Regions from separate parts of the Homo sapiens genome. Here region 1 is linked to region 2. The links come from fine-mapping of genetic effects on gene expression. A gene starts in region 2. The other region holds a variant in brackets. All regions are shown on one strand. Distances are from middle to middle.

Region 1 (2,919 bases), 29 kb before region 2:
GGCTTGAAGGTCGGCTTTCACCGGGGACCTGTCCCTATCTGCCTAGGAATCTGTCTGCCTCCTTTTGCTATCAATCCCTCCTCTGAAGAGGTACATCTAACTGCTGTTAGGATACAAACAGTAACCGCTCTTAACTGCTTCATGCTAACAGGGTGCACTGTTTTGGGAAAACGGCAGTCAGATCTCTCAGAGGCCTATCAAAGTGTTTCCCGGGTAATGGGACCAGGAAATGGGACCCATTGCCCGTGGCTCCATTTGCATGACCATTTGGAGTTTGATGGTCTCTAGGTGAGAATAAACAAATTTTACAAGGAGGTTAAATATGCGTGGACCAAATATGTGTAGTATACAAAGAGGAGCTAAAAGGAAAATCTCTATTGCCAACGATAACAGAAATAAGAAGTAAAATAGACTAATCATTCTGAAAACAATGTTGTGGCCACAGATATTTCACCCCAGTGAAGGAAATTAAATCTTGTATGGGGGAAGGCAATTAAACTTTAGAAGAGAGATAGCTGTTTAGGAGAGTAGATAATCCCAGGGACATTCAGTAATAAGGAGTCTTGGCAAAGATGCCTTATGGTGAGGAACAGAACAAAGGCGAGTACAGCAAGCATAGGTGAGATTATAAAGAGGATATCCATTGAAGGTTAATTATTGACACTTAAGTTTTGTTTCTTCACACTGTTGCTTTGGGTGCTCTTCTGGGTCAACAGAGGTAATTTCATCAGTTTCCCAGACTTTACTCGAGTATAATTAATCCAAGAATCTATTCCAGTGAACTTTACTGATGTAGGAGTAGAAAGAATTACAGTTGAAGGCCCCTCCCAATCTAGGCCACAGAGAGAGAAAAGGAAAGAAGAGCCTTTACCAGTACTAGGTCTCCTGGGTTGAATAGAGGTGGTTCTACTTCACGGGATTGGTCCTCCGACAGTTGTTTCAGTTCCTATTGGAAATGGGCCAAAGAAGTTACATGTCTAATCAAATCAGGGGTTTGTTGGTTTAGCAAGAAACCACTGGTGAGAAAAGGCCATCTATACATCGTTTTGAAGGAACTTAAACCCAGCTT[T/C]GAAAGCTGTTTCTAACACATACTAGTGCCATGGAAAGAAGAGTAATCCAGGGGGAGATGAATCTCTTTAGACAGTTTTCTGAGGTGCCTTTTGATAATATCATTTGTCTTTTCTACGATTCCTGAGCATTGTGGTCTCCAAGCACAATGAAAATGATATTGCATGCCTAGTGCCTTTGAGACCTCCTAGGTGACAGCTGCTTTGAACAAGGGGCTGTCATACCATACTGGAAACATTAGTTTTGGGCTTTTTTAACCTAATATTATGTATTTGTAGATTTTTCAGTGCCAGTGTATTCAAGGCTGTGTCATTTATTCCAGAGTTGTAGAGTACTGCCTTGTTTGATGCACCATGTTGATTAACCAGTATTTAGTTTATGGATATTAACATTGCCTCAAGTCTCCTGTCAGAACAAATAAGACAATTCCTACTATTCTTACTATTACAATCAGAAAGATATTTCAGTAAGATGGCTGAAAAAAATTTATATATACAATTTAATGGCATTCCTATATAGAATCAATAACCAATTAGAATATAAAATGGAAAACAGTAATCACAGAATGATTTTTAATATCTTTCAATAAATTTAATAAGAAATGTGTAAGAGCCCTATGAACAAAATGTTAAAATGCTATTATGGGAGATAAAAGAGCATTTGAATCTATTGGAAAATATACCCACTCTTGCATAGAAACACTCAGCATCATGATAATGTAAATTCTCTCTAAGGAAAGCCTTGAGATTTTATACAACATTAACAAAACAACACCTGGTCAATTTGTGAAACAGACTGGCTGCATCAATAAAGCAAAACAGAATCAAAAGATAAGAAGCAATAGAGTAGAGTCTTAACACTAAGATAACATTACAGATCAGTGCATAAGAACATAGATCATTCCATAAATGATGTTGAGAAATTGAGATAGACATATAAAAAATAAGCTGCTTACTTACTCTTTGCACTAAAACAAATTTTAGATGAATCAAGTATTTAAACATAAAAATGAAGCTATGAAAGTACTAGAGAAGGCAAGGGAATTTTTTTTATAATATTTAAGTGAAAGCCTTCTTGAGTGTGGACAAGGAAACAGAAATTGTAAAATAAAAGACAAATAAATTCAACCACACAACACGTTAGAGGTGTCAAAAAAGTATCATAAGAAAATCAAAGTCCAAACAAAATACTGGCAAGACATCCCTAAAGCAAAGGACCAATTTTCTTTATATAAATGATGCTTTACTTCTGTTTAATGGTGTAGCCCTCGGGTTGATAAAGAAATGGAAACATTATCACATTTTAAATATAAGAAGCAATACATCTTTGAGTCAGCAACCTTGGTTCTAGGAACTTATCCTTATAAAATATGCTTTCATATCTTCAACATGATACACATAGTCGGCTGGACATGGTGGCTCATGCCTATAATCCCAGCACTTTGGGAGGCCAAGGCAAGAGGATCACTCGACCCCAGGAGTTTGAGAACAGCTTGGCCAACATGGTGAAACTCCATCTCTACTAAAAATACAAAAAATTAGCCAGGCGTGGTGGTGCATGCCTCTAATCCCAGCTACTCAGGTGGCTGAGGCAGGAGAATCTCTTGAGTCCAAGAGGTGGAGGTTGCACCAAGCCAAGATTGTGCCACTGCACTCACAGCCTGGGCAACAGAGCAAGACTGTTTCAGAAAAAAGAAAGGAATAATAGTCTTACTTTCCTCCTAAGGGGTTGTAAAGATCAAATCTATATTAGGTTGTTTGAGCTGCCATAACAAAATACTACAGATTAGGCGGCTTGAAAAACAAAAGGTTATTTTCTCAGCTTTGCAGACTAGAGGGCTAAGATCAAGGT
Region 2 (2,919 bases):
TTTTTTTTTTTTTTTGAGACGGAGTTTCGCTCTGTCGCCCAGGCTGGAGTGCAGTGGCGCGATCTCGACTCACTGCAAGCTCCGCCTCCCGGGTTCACGCCATTCTCCTGCCTCAGCCTCCCGTGTAGCTGGGACTACAGGCGCGCGCCACCATGCCCGGCTAATTTTTGTATTTTTAGTAGAGACGGGGTTTCACTGTGTTATCCAGGATGGTCTCGATCTCCTGACCTCGTGATCCGCTCGTCTCGGCCTCCCAAAGTGCTGGGATTACAGGCGTGAGCCACCGCGCCCGGCCGAAGTATTTGTTTCTAACAAGAGCATTCTGGACATTAAAGGGCCTTAGAGTATGAGAGAAAAAAGCCAGAAAAAAAAAAGGAATAGTAATAATAATTTTTTAAAAAGTAGAAATAAAAAGGTAAGGAGTTAACATCCATTAGATTCCATTTTCTATTCAAATATGTATATTTACATACAGTACTGCTGAATTGACTCACAGTTCTTAGGTCCTATAGAGGAGTGCAGTGAAAAGGAAGACAATTTACACAGTACAGAGCTGAACATAGGACTTACAAACAAAAAAAAAGTCAAGGAATACAAAGTAGCTTTCCCAGGTGTAAAGTACCGGGTCTAGAATTCTATGAGGCTAGGGAGAAGATAAACGACAAAAGCTATAAGAGATCAGAATGAAAAGAGATCCACAAGCCTAAGAAGCCCAGGCCCTTGAGGAGAACCATGAATTTGAGCAGGATTTCACTAATTCCTTTAAAAAGTAGCCATTGCCTCAAAGTACGACTCCATCAGCATAGGCAGGAAAGTGGGAGTGAGGAAAGGCTTAGAGTTTTCCAGCCTGGCTGGGGTCAGACAATTTGCCTGGGGAAATAGTGGGAGCTGAGGTTGAAAAGACCGATTGGCTTCACGTTTGTGGCAGGCCTTGTCCAAAAAGCAATAGGAAGTCGTTGAAAGGTTTTGTGCAGGGGAGCGACAGGATTAAGGCACTACTTAGTAGGAAGTCATATCAAAAGCAGCAACCTGACAAATGGCAAATACGACAGAAGGAAAAAAAATAACAGGAATTTTCTTCACAATGACTCGACTTTGAGGTAATAAATGCCTGAGCCACATTGGAAGCAGGGGTCTCAGAAGGAAGGCGCAGATGGGAAAGGCTTTTCTGGGCGGTGGCGTTTCAATGCAAGGAGGGCGCTTGAATCACTGACAGACTTCAAGTTAAGGGAGTTTTCGTGGCTGAGGTTAGTAAGTCACACGCACAGCTCTCCAAAGGCATGTATGGGGAACGCCAGCCTTGGCTAAAAGACTGATTCAAGTTATGTCCGTCACCCTGAGCAACCAAAACCACCCACTACAGGGCAGGTGACCCCACAAAGCAAACCAAGCCATCTGGTCCACGCTCCCCACCTCCCGGAGGGAGATGGAAAAGTTTCGGGAGTAGTCCCCGGCCAATCGGAAAGACATTTTTTCATTCCTCAACCACTACTCTCAGGTGCTCCAGGGAGGGAGGATGACTTCCTGACGGTCCTCCTGCCGCTCCTCCCTCGGGCCAATTATGAAACTCTGGGCACTCTTGACCTCACCCCGTTAGGGCCCGGGAGGGGCTCCCTAGTATAAAGTTCGCAGCACCAGACAGTTGAGCTCACTTGCCTGATATTTCCAGTGTCAGAGGGACACAGCCAACGTGGGGTCCCTTCTAGGCTGACAGCCGCTCTCCAGCCACTGCCGCGAGCCCGTCTGCTCCCGCCCTGCCCGTGCACTCTCCGCAGCCGCCCTCCGCCAAGCCCCAGCGCCCGCTCCCATCGCCGATGACCGCGGGGAGGAGGATGGAGATGCTCTGTGCCGGCAGGGTCCCTGCGCTGCTGCTCTGCCTGGGTAAGTTCTCCCCCTCTGGCTTCCGGCCGCCCCAAAGAGGAGACAAATAAGGAAGGCTCCTGTGCATTTGTCATTCGACAAGTACGGAGTTGTCTCCAGGTTCAAGTGTGCTCTATTTAAAATTACGTCTTGTTTTGTGAGTCTGTCTTCCCCTATGGTGGGACTGGGGTGGGGGGGACTGGGGATCGATGTTAAAATGCTTTTTATTGGTGAATTAATTATTGGCATATATGTTATGCATGGATTGAAATATCTCCTTATTAAACAAAATAAAAAGTTGTTGAAAAAGCTTTTTTTTTTTTTTTGAAAAGTTGCCAGTCCTAGAAATCTAAAGGCCTGGAACGCACTGTTAACATTTCATGTCTTGTTCCTTTTTGTTGGAGAGTGGGGAATAGAAACTAGCGTAAGAAATTTTTTGGAGGGGGGAAAAAGCTTTTCTCCTCTGTCTTGCGCTCAGTTTTCTAAAACCTAGCCTGGTTTAGCTTTCCCGGAGGAGCTGGTATGCGCCAGTGCCAGTTGGCTGAGCTCCAGACACAAGAGAAATAAAACACTGGTCGAGGGTATCTGGAGCAGAAGGGCCCTGGGCAGGTCCTGGCGCTCCCCACCGCCCTTCGCCCCTACACCTGCTGCTTGCGTTTTTCCCTGCAGCCTCCCAAGCAGCCTCTGGAGCAAGCGTTCTGCACTTGCTGCTAATTGCACTCCATAGCCTGTGATCGCTGAGGGTATTTAAATGCCAGTCTTCCTATTTGAGATGATTTAGTTCAAGGGGAAAAATTTTCTAAATAGCCTTTCTGTTAAAAAAAAATTACTTCTTTCCAATTCCTTAAACTTCAGTTTAAGGAATTTGAAAGAGTTTGAAGTCGTATATGAATATCTTAATAAAAAAATAAAAGTTACCACCAGTCTCATATTCTCCCTGGAGTTGGAATGAGGCTGATTCCCCAGACACTCTAACTCTACCTGTGAAGGATGTGACTGTTAAATTATTATTTTGGCACACCTTATCTCAGGGGTTGAGAGACCTAATGAAATGCATAC

The links. PIP is the estimated chance that this variant, and not a neighbour inherited with it, causes the effect. A credible set is the group of variants that fine-mapping cannot tell apart.
Region 1: its variant is the best candidate, but not a certain one, in a credible set for the expression of EREG in whole blood (INTERVAL, PIP 0.84).

What each region holds. Positions count from the first base shown.
Region 1 is chr4:74,334,887-74,337,805 of GRCh38, forward strand. All of the region lies in intron 1 of LOC105377276 (a long non-coding RNA gene), which reads right to left. Among named protein-coding and RNA genes, the nearest start is that of EPGN, 28 kb to the left of the region's middle. The variant T/C (reference allele first, on the strand shown) is at 1,070.
Region 2 is chr4:74,363,495-74,366,413 of GRCh38, forward strand. It overlaps EREG (epiregulin), which reads left to right and starts at 1,651. Exons shown (of 5, transcript NM_001432.3): 1 at 1,651-1,881. The coding sequence starts at 1,815. LOC105377276 (a long non-coding RNA gene) reads right to left here and starts at 1,847. Exons shown (of 3, transcript NR_188415.1): 1 at 1,657-1,847.